2 separate regions of the Homo sapiens genome follow, and region 1 is linked to region 2. Evidence: fine-mapped expression QTL. Tissue or cell type: whole blood. Region 2 holds a variant in brackets; the other region holds the start of a gene. All regions are shown on one strand. Distances are between the middles of the regions.

What was found. PIP is the estimated chance that this variant, and not a neighbour inherited with it, causes the effect.
Region 1: it holds the start of S1PR4, and the variant in region 2 is fine-mapped to the expression of S1PR4 in whole blood (INTERVAL, PIP above 0.99).

The regions. Positions count from the first base shown.
Region 1 is chr19:3,176,656-3,180,655 of GRCh38, reverse strand. It overlaps S1PR4 (sphingosine-1-phosphate receptor 4), which reads right to left and starts at 1,887. Exons shown (of 1, transcript NM_003775.4): 1 at 324-1,887. The coding sequence starts at 1,863. The coding sequence ends at 709. RefSeq lists enhancers at 300-529, 570-749, 790-1,439, 3,023-3,905 and a silencer at 1,670-2,219.
Region 2 is chr19:3,146,717-3,152,262 of GRCh38, reverse strand. GNA15 (G protein subunit alpha 15) reads right to left here. Exons shown (of 7, transcript NM_002068.4): 2 at 3,488-3,672; 3 at 1,978-2,132; 4 at 428-556. GNA15-DT (GNA15 divergent transcript) reads left to right here. Exons shown (of 4, transcript NR_110670.1): 2 at 2,473-3,647. Among named protein-coding and RNA genes, the nearest start is that of GNA15-DT, 5.7 kb to the left of the region's middle. The variant C/T (reference allele first, on the strand shown) is at 3,392.

The sequences.
Region 1 (4,000 bases), 29 kb before region 2:
GTGCCTCTGCCAGCCCCAGAGAGTGGGTCCCCAAAAGATGCAGAGGCCAGAGATGGGGCATGGGCCCTGCCATTTCTAAAGGGGAAGTGAACAAGAAGAGGCGGCATTAACTGTCATTGTCACCCCCACTTCCCGCAACGCCCAGAGGTTGTCCACACACACACACACACACACACACACACACACACACTCCACCCTCACAGGGCACTGGCCCGTGGCCCTCTCTAGCAAAGACACACCCGGCTGCCCCTAGATCCACAGCCCCCCTGAGCCACGGCCCCCACGCATGCACGCACCAGGGAATAAGAGGCCGCAACATCACGTACCATGATCGAACTTCAATGTTGCCAGGGCATGCATCCCACAGTCCACCCCTTGCAGCCTGGGAGCCCTACTGAGGCCCAGAGAGGGGCCGGGACTTCCCCAGAATCACACAGAAGCGGGGTTGTGGGGAACCCACTCGCCCCCACACCAGGGTGCTCTCTGCTCCTACGGGGAGGTGGGGTGGTTGCCTCCTTGTCCAGGGTGACCATGGGAAGCCCATTTGGCGTCAGAAGCCCCGAGAGGCCACCGGGAAGACCATGGGGGCCTGTCCCGTTCCCTGCTCCCCATACAGGCGAGGCTGCGTGCACACAGCTTCCTGTACCCCAGGAGGGCCTGCCTGGCACGCACCCGGTGGCTGCACCATCCACACGCAAGACTGCAACTTCAGATGCTCCGCACGCTGGAGATGCTGGACAGGGGCTCCCGCATCCGAAAGCTGAGCGAGCGGGAGCCGCGAAAGCTGTCCCTTGGCCTCAGAGAGCTGTCGGTGGTGGAAGCTCCGGAGTGAGCCTCGACGGCCCGGGCCAGGCAGTCCCCGGGCCCTCGCATGCCCAGCCGGAGACACCCGCAGCAGAGGAAGCTGAGCACGGCTCTGCACACCTCCCTGCTGCGGAAGGAGTAGATGATGGGGTTGACCGCCGAGTTGAGGACGGCCAGGGCCAGGATCCAGTCCATGCCCCGCAGGTACTCCTGGGCCCAGAGGTTGGAGCCAAAGACGTCGGCCAGCAGCAGCCCGAAGAGTGGGCCCCAGCACACCAGGAAGGCCAGCAGGATCATCAGCACCGTCTTCAGCAGGCGGCGGGCCTTGCGGCGGGCCGCTGGGCGTGGGGCCTTCTGCCCGCTGGCCTGCACCAGGCGGAAGATGGCCCCATAGAGGCCCATGATGGTGGCCAGGACGCCGGCGAAGATCACCAGGCAGAAGAGGATGTAGCGCTTGGAGTAGAGGGGCAGAAGGCTGGAGCAGCGGTCAAAGGCGCACAGGCAGTTCCAGCCCAGCAAAGGCAGCATCCCCAGCAGCGCGGCCAGCAGCCAGCAGAGGCCGATGAAGCCGTAGACGCGGCTGGTCTTGGTGGCCCCGCTCTCGGCCACCGGCCGCACCATGGTGGCAAAGCGCTCCCCTGCAGTGAAGAGCAGGCTGAAGGTGGAGGCGGCCAGGGCGGTGAAGAGCAGGCCCTCCCGTAGGAACCACTGGGCGGGCGCCAGACGGAAGGTGCGGGCCCCCGACAGCAGCACGTTGGCCAGGTAGGCCGCGCCCGTGAGCAGGTCACTCAGCGTGATGTTCACCAGGCAATAGTAGACCCAGCGTCGCGACCGCATGTGGCTGGTGATGGCCGCCAGCACCAGCAAGTTCTCCAGCACCACCAGGCAGCTGGCGGCCACCGACAGCCCCCGCAGGGCCCCCAGGCCGCCATCCTCCGGCCCCCCGCGCCCGGCCAGCCGGCCCGAGTGGTTGTAGTGCAGAACAATGAGCCGGCTGTGCCCGCCGGCCGCCAGCTGTTGGCAGGACTCGGGGGCCACCGGGGTCCCCGTGGCGTTCATGGCCTCCCCCGGGGGCTGACTGAGGCCCGACGCAGGGTGGAGCCACCCGCCTTGCTGGTCTTGGTTTCCTGTTATTTGAAATTTCCTGTTATGTTCAAGGTGCCCTCCAGGGTGGAGGTAAGGCCGAGGACAGGGAGGGGCACCCCAACGGTCGGCCCCCACCCGGGCTCCTGGAGCCAACGCGCTGGGGCTGCCCTGGCTGTGAGGACCCCCACCCCTGCCCTGGCTGCCTTCTTCCTGTCCTCGAAAGCCGGAGACCCGCAGGGAGCCCCGGAGCCGTCAGTCACGGAGGGGAAATGAGTCCCCACTCGGGATGGGCCACCCCTTTCCAGCCGGACGACTCCTCCCCACCAGCCCTGATCACCCCCGAAGCACCCGTCGGCTCCACTGAGGTCTCCCCACATGCTCCACCGGCGCTCAGCACACAGCAGGTGCCTAATAAATGTCAAGTGCCTGCATGCCCTTGAGCACTGACTCATCCGACTTGATCCCCGAAACAGGGCCTGATGCGTTACAGAAGAGGAAACTGAGGCCCAGAGAGCCCGGTGCGTTGCAGAAGGGGAAACTGAGGCCCAGAGAGCCCGATGCGTTGCAGAAGGGGAAACTGAGGCCCAGAGAGCCCGATGCGTTGCAGAAGGGGAAACTGAGGCCCAGAGAGCCCGAGGCGTTGCAGAAGGGGAAACTGAGGCCCAGAGAGCCCGAGGCGTTGCAGAAGGGGAAACTGAGGCCCAGAGAGCCCGATGCGTTGCAGAAGGGGAAACTGAGGCCCAGAGAGCCCGATGCGTTGCAGAAGGGGAAACTGAGGCCCAGAGAGCCCGATGCGTTGCAGAAGGGGAAACTGAGGCCCAGAGAGCCCGAGGCGTTGCAGAAGGGGAAACTGAGGCCCAGAGAGCCCGAGGCGTTGCAGAAGGGGAAACTGAGGCCCAGAGAGCCCGATGCGTTGCAGAAGGGGAAACTGAGGCCCAGAGAGCCCGAGGCGTTGCAGAAGGGGAAACTGAGGCCCAGAGAGCCCGATGCGTTGCAGAAGGGGAAACTGAGGCCCAGAGAGCCCGATGCGTTGCAGAAGGGGAAACTGAGGCCCAGAGAGCCCGATGCGTTGCAGAAGGGGAAACTGAGGCCCAGAGAGCCTGATGCGTTACAGAAGGGAAAACTGAGGCCCACAAAGGCGGCCTGAGGCCAACTTTCTGCCCATGGGAGGACACACAGGTCCAGGGAGAGAGACCCCCAGGGACAAGCTGGTAGGGTCTCGGGGCCAGGCGCCCATTTTGGGATTCATGGTTGCCTCTCCTGCCCCTGAGCTCACCCTGCTGGGAGCAGAGCTGCTGGCCCCCTGGGGCAGCCCCCCACTGGGATTGAGGTGCATAGGAAAAGTAGGGACTTGCTCACCCCATCCCCATGGCCCTGCTGACAACGGCTCACGGTGACTCAGCCTGAGGTGAGGTGGCTGTGGGTCTAAGTGGGAGACACACCCTGCTCTGGCGTCTGAGGAGGGAGGCAGGCTCTGCCCTGGCGTCTGAGGGGGAAGCTTGGACCTGCCTGGGGTCTGAGGGGGGAGGGTTGGCCTTGCCCTAGGTTCTGAGAGGGGAGGCATGACCTTACCCTGGGGTCTGAGCGGAGAGGCTCAGCCTTGTCCTGGGGTCTGAGGAGGGATGCGAGGCCCTGTGCTGTGGTCTGAGAGGGGAGACACACCCTGCCCTGGGTCTGAGGAGGGAGGTATGCCCTGCCCTGAGGTTTGAGCGGGGAGGCTTGAACCTGCCTGGGGTCTAGGGGTGAGGGTTGGCCTTGCCTTGGGGTCTGAGTGGGGAGGCATGGCCCTGTCCTGAGTCTGAGGGGGGAGGCGAGGCCCTGCCTTGGGGTCTGAGGGGAGAGGTGAGGCCCTGTCCTGGGGTCCAAGGGAGGAGGCGAGGCCCTACCCTGAGGTCTGAGTGGGGATGCTCAGCCTTGCCCTGGGGTCTGAGGAGGGAGGCTCAGCCTTGCCCTGGGGTCTGGGGCATGTAGGGGCTTGGACATCATCTGTCACGGATGGAGTGTGAGGTCTCTGCTCTCCAGCTCCCCCAGTGTCTGTGACCCCCCACTCGTCCCCATCCAGAAGGCCTTGGGGTGTGGGGTGATTTGGGAAATAATGCAGGCCCCAGAA
Region 2 (5,546 bases):
CCAGCCTCACACTCTAGTCCATCCCCCAGTGTTGATGACTACAGGGATCACCTCTGAGCTCCCCAGACCAGGCCTCCCCAGACCTGGTCCTGACTGTATAGTCTCTATTTCCTCCTCCCCAGCAGCCCCTTCAGGGTTAGGACTACTGAACTCCTATTCGTCTTTCAAAACCCCATTAATATTCCCTCCTCCAAGAAGATATTCCCTCCTGGATCTCTGATGCCTCAGCCTGGGCTCCTACAGGTCCCAGTCCTGACTACCTGGGGGCCTGGAGGTGTCTACATGGAGCTTTGCTTCCCCTAGCTTGGCAGCTCCTTGAAGGCTGGGCCTAAGAAACTCCTACTCATCCCTCAGGGCCCCAGCTCCTTTGCCCTTCCTACAGGAAGCCTTCCCTGCCCCCTAGGCTGGGCCTAGGTGGAGCGCTCACCGCAGGTTGGTTTTCTGCACGGAGAAGCAGTACTCGTTGATGCCAGTGGTGGGCATGCGGCTGCGGAGCACGTCCTGAGCTGTGGGGACGTAGCCCTCCTCGGTGATGCGCTCCAGGTGGGACAGGTAGCTGCAGAGCAAGGAGTCCTGAGGCCCAGCCTTGCAGCCAGCCTCCCTTTGCTTCCCAGGCCCTACGAAAGGCCCAGCAAGGACCCTGCTGGGGGAGGAGAGCTCCCTGGGTGGAGGTGGGGTCCCTGGAGTTGGCAGATGGCCCAGGAGCGTCCCCCACCTGAGGCAATGGAGCCCCAAGGAAAAGCAGCTTCACACGCAGAGCAGGGTGACCCGAGGGATGGCGTGACATGAGGAATGGCCTCATCGAGGAGTGGTGTCCCCCGGGAGAGCTGCTATGGCAGGGGTGGCGCTACCCCAAGAATGCTGGTAGCCTGGGAACAGTCTTCCCAGACATCAAGCCACCTTGGACATCCACCATCACACCTAGTACAGGATCCCACTAGGAATAGGGTCACCCCCAGAACAGGGTCTCCCCTGGAACAGAGTCCCCCCTAAAACAGGGTCACTTTAGGAACAGGGTCCCCCCAGGAACAGGGTCACTCCAGGAACAGGGTCCCCCCAGAATAGGGTCCCCTCAGAAACAGGGTCACTCCCAGAAAAGGGTCCCTTCTAAAACAGGGGCACTCTAGGAACAGGTTCCCGCCAGGAATAGGGTCACTCCGGGAACAGGGTTCTCTAGGAATAGGGTTCCCCCAGGAACAAGGTCCCCCCAGGAACAGGGTCCCTCCAAGAACAGGGTCACTCTAGGAATACAGTCCCCCCAGGAACAGGATCACCCCTAGGAACAGGGTCACTCCAGGAAAAGGATCAACGCCAGAACAGGATCCCCCAGGAAATAGGGTCTCCCTGGGAACAGAGTCACCCCCGGGAACAGGGTCCCCCCAGAAACAGGGTCACCCCTGAAACAGGGTCCTCACGGGAACAGGGACTCCAAGGCCCAGGGTCACTCCAGGAACAGGGTTCTCCAGGAATAGGGTTCCCCCCAGGATCAGGGTTCCCCCCAAGAACAGGGTCACTCTAGGAATACGGTTCCCCCAGGAACAGGGTCACCCCTGAAACAGGGTCCTCGCAGGAACAGGGAACCCCAGGCACAGGGTCACTCTAGGAACAGGATACCCCCTAGAACAGGGTCTCCCCAAGGAACTGGATTCCCTCAGGAACAGAGTCACTCCTAGAACAGAGTCCCCCTATGAATAGGGTCATTCCAAGAACAAGATCACCGCCAGAACAGAGTCCCAAGGAACAGGGTCCACCCAGGAACAAGGTCATTCCATGAAGGGAGTTCCCCCAGGAAAAGGGTCACCCCCAGAACAGGGTCCCCCGGGAATTAGGGTCCCCCTGGAAGGACCTCATCCTGGAGCAGGACCACCTCACAGCCCATCTGCGCCCACAATATCTCCTGCTGCAGGAAGCCAGCCAGCCTGGCCCCTGCCCTCAGCCCCTCCCCACGCGCCCATCCCCCGCAGACCCCAGACTCACTACACGGCTGAATCGAGCAGGTGGAATTCCCGCCGACGCTCATAGCAGGCCCGGATGCCGGCATCCCTCCACAGCCACTGCATGGCCGCAGCGTAGCGCTTCTCAAACGTGGTCACTTTATAGGGGTCCTGGCTCATGACCAGGCTAGCGTGGTGCTGGGGAGGGAGGACGGGGGCAGTTAGGGTAGCCTTTCTGAGTGGGGCTGCCCTCCGCAGGCATCTCTGCAAGCCCCCACGTCCCTCCCTGAAACACGCTCTCTTCCCACTGCTCTCCTTCTTCCCCAGAGCTCCCGACCCCCCCGCACACTTCTGATTTGTCCTCCGTCTGTTCTTGCATGGATCCCCAGAGGGAAAAGCACAGACCACCACATGAGGGGCTGCAGAGGGCACATGTGCTCGGGCGAGCCCAGGCTCAGGGGGAGCATGGCACCCAGCCCCGCTCTTTACACTAGCTGGCTCCCAGGAAGCACGGCACTCACAGTCCCCCCTTCCACAGATGAAGCGACTAAGACACAGAGCACTGAAGCAATCTGCCCCTCAGAAGTCCCCCAGAGGCGCGTGAACCCTGAGCTGCCCCCCAGACTCTGGGTTTCCCCTTCTTTTCCCCAAACAGCCCTAGCTCCCCCCAGGCACTCGCGTTGCTCAGACCTTTGTGATGGACTCTGAGTGTTGTGTGTGCATTTCTCTGTGTTTGTTCATGTACAAGCGTGCTCGTGTGTGTGTGTGTATAGATGTACACATGTACATGGGTGTGTCTGGGTGTGTGATTTGTTTGCATATTTGTGTGTGGGGCACGCGCATGTATCCTTGGCTGCATTTGTGGGTGCGTGCATAGGTGTGCTTGTGTGTGCATTTGTATGTGTGCACACATGTGCGTGCATGTGCATGGGGGGATTGCATGCAGGCATGTGTGTATCCTTGTGTGTTTGTGTATGTGCATGTGTGTGTGTGCATGTGGGAATTTGCATGCATGCTTGTGTGTGTTTGTGTATGTGCATGTGTGTGTGTGCATGTGGGAATTTGCATGCATTCTTGTGTGTGTTTGTGAGTGTGTACACGTGCATGGGCGTGTTTGAGTGTGTACATTTGTGTGTGCACTTATTTGTGTGCATCTGTGTGGGGGCATCTGCATGGATCCTTGTGTGCATTTGTGTGTGTGCACACGTGTGCACGTGTGTGCATTCATTTGTGTATGTGTGTGGGTGTGTGCATGTGGGCATGCGTGTGTATCTTTGTGAGCATGTACGTGTGTGTCCTTGTGTGCATGTCTGTGCGTGTGCATACATGTGCGTGTGTGCATTTATGCGTGTATACTTGTGTGTGCACTTGTATGTATGCACATATGTCTGGAGGACATGGCCTTGCCCCAGGGTCTGGGGACCCTTCCCTGCCTGCCCTGCCCTGCCCTGCCCTGC[C/T]CTGAAGTCTGGGGAACTTGGCCCTGCTCCGGGGTCTGGGGAACCCTGCCCTGGGCCCCTGCCTGCCCTGGGCCCCTGCCTGCCCTGGCGGCTCACCTTGCTCTCGGGCCTGCTGAATGGAATCTGCAGCCGCTCCATGGCCTCGATCATGGCCCGCATGGACACGAAGATGTTCTGGTAGACCAGGGGCCGGAAGCCCTTGCGCTCCTCCTCCGAGTAGCCGGCGCCGTGGATGATCCGCATCTGCTTGATGAAGGTGCTCTTCCCGCTCTCGCCTGGGCCTGGGGATGGAGCAGCAGAACCGCTCAGCCCTCCACGGGACTCCCACCCCCGACACCCCCAACCCCACGTCAGACACCCCCAACTCCACGCCAGGCCTCCTGGGTTCAAACCCCGGTGCAGCCGGGACCTCACTCAGTGACCCTAGGCTAGCGGCTTTGCCGCTCTGTGCCTTGGTTTCCCCATCTGTAAAACATGAACCTCAGGCTGGGCACGGTGGCTCATGCCTGTAGTCCCAGCACTTTGGGAGGCTGAGGCAGGCGGATCACCTGAGGTCAGGAGTTAGAGACCAACCTGGTAAACATGGCGAAACCCCATCTCTATTAAAAATACAAAATTAGCCGGGTGTGGTGGCTCACGCCTGTAATCCCAGCTACGCAGGAGGCTGAGGCAGGAGAATCGCTTGAACCTGGGAGGCAGAGATTGCAGTGAGCTGAGATCACACCATTGTACTCCAGCCTGAGCGACAGGGCGAGATTCTGTCTCAAAAAAAAACAAAACAAACAAACAAAAAAAACAAAACATGGACCTCAACAGACCATGCCTGCTGCATCAAACTGAGGGCCAAATGAATTGATTATAAAATGCTCACGGTAAGGGTCGCAAACTCCGGCTGCTTGAGGGCCAGATCCAGTTATCTTTGTGTGGCCAGAAAGTTTTTGTTTGTTTTTGTTTTCTTTTTCTCTTCTTTTTTTTTTTTTTTTTGAGATGGAGTCTTGCTCTGTCACCCAGGCTGGAGTGCAGTGGCGCGACCTCGGCTCACTGCAAGCTCCGTCTCCCGGGTTCACACCATTCTCCTGCCTCAGCCTCTCTGAGTAGCTGGGACTACAGGCACCCGCCACCACGCCCGGCTAATTTTTTTGTATTTTTAGTAGAGACGGGGTTTCACCGTGGTCTTGACCTCGTGATCCACCCGCCTCGGCCTCCCAAAGTGCTGGGATTACAAGCGTGAGCCACCGCGCCTGGCCAGTTTTTGTGTTTTTAATACTTTTTATGGTTATGGTTCTTATGGGTTTTTTTCTTTTTTCTTTTTTTCTTTTTTTTTAGACAGATTCTCTGTTGCCCAGGCTGGAGTGCAATGGCGCAATCTCAGCTCACTGCAACCTCTGGCTCCCAGGTTCAAGTGATTCTCCTCCCTCAGCCTCCCAAGTAGCTGGGGTAACAGGCGCGTGCCACCACGCCTAGTTAATTTTTGTATTTTTAGTACAGCTGTGGTTTCACCATGTTAGCCAGGCTGGTCTCAAATTCCTGGGCTCAAGTGATCCGTCTGCCTCGGCCTCCCAAAGTGCTGGGATTACAGGCGTGAGCCACCGTGCCTGGCCTATTTTTATTATTTATCATAACAATACTAATATGTATTATTATTTGCTACAATAATTTCAGGTAGAGAAACTTTTACGAAAGAAATAACATAGGATAAATAGGGCAAGGAGTAATTAGGTGACTACGATAGCCACGCAGTCAAGGAAGGCCTCTCAGTGGAAGTGATTTGTGAGCAGTCAAGGAAGGCCTCTCAGTGAAAGTGATTTGTGAAGGCCGGAAGGTGGCTGTCAAAATCTTAGAGGGCACACCAGGTGACAGTAACAGCTTGTGCAAAGGCCCTGGGGCAGGGCCGCACCTGGCATATTGGAGGAACAGTGAGGAGGCCCTTGTGGCTGGAGCAGAGTGAGGAGGGGGAGAGAGGAAGGAGGGGAGGGTGGGTTGTGCTGGGCCTTGTGGGTTGCAGGGAAGTCTTGGGCTTTGACCCTGAGGGACTTGGGAGCCATGGAGGGCTGTGGGCAGAGGAGGGACTGGCCCTGACTCAGGTGCTCACAGGCGCCCTCTGGTGGCTGCTGCAGGGAGGACAGGCTGTGGGGGGTGGTCTGGGGGAGCCCGG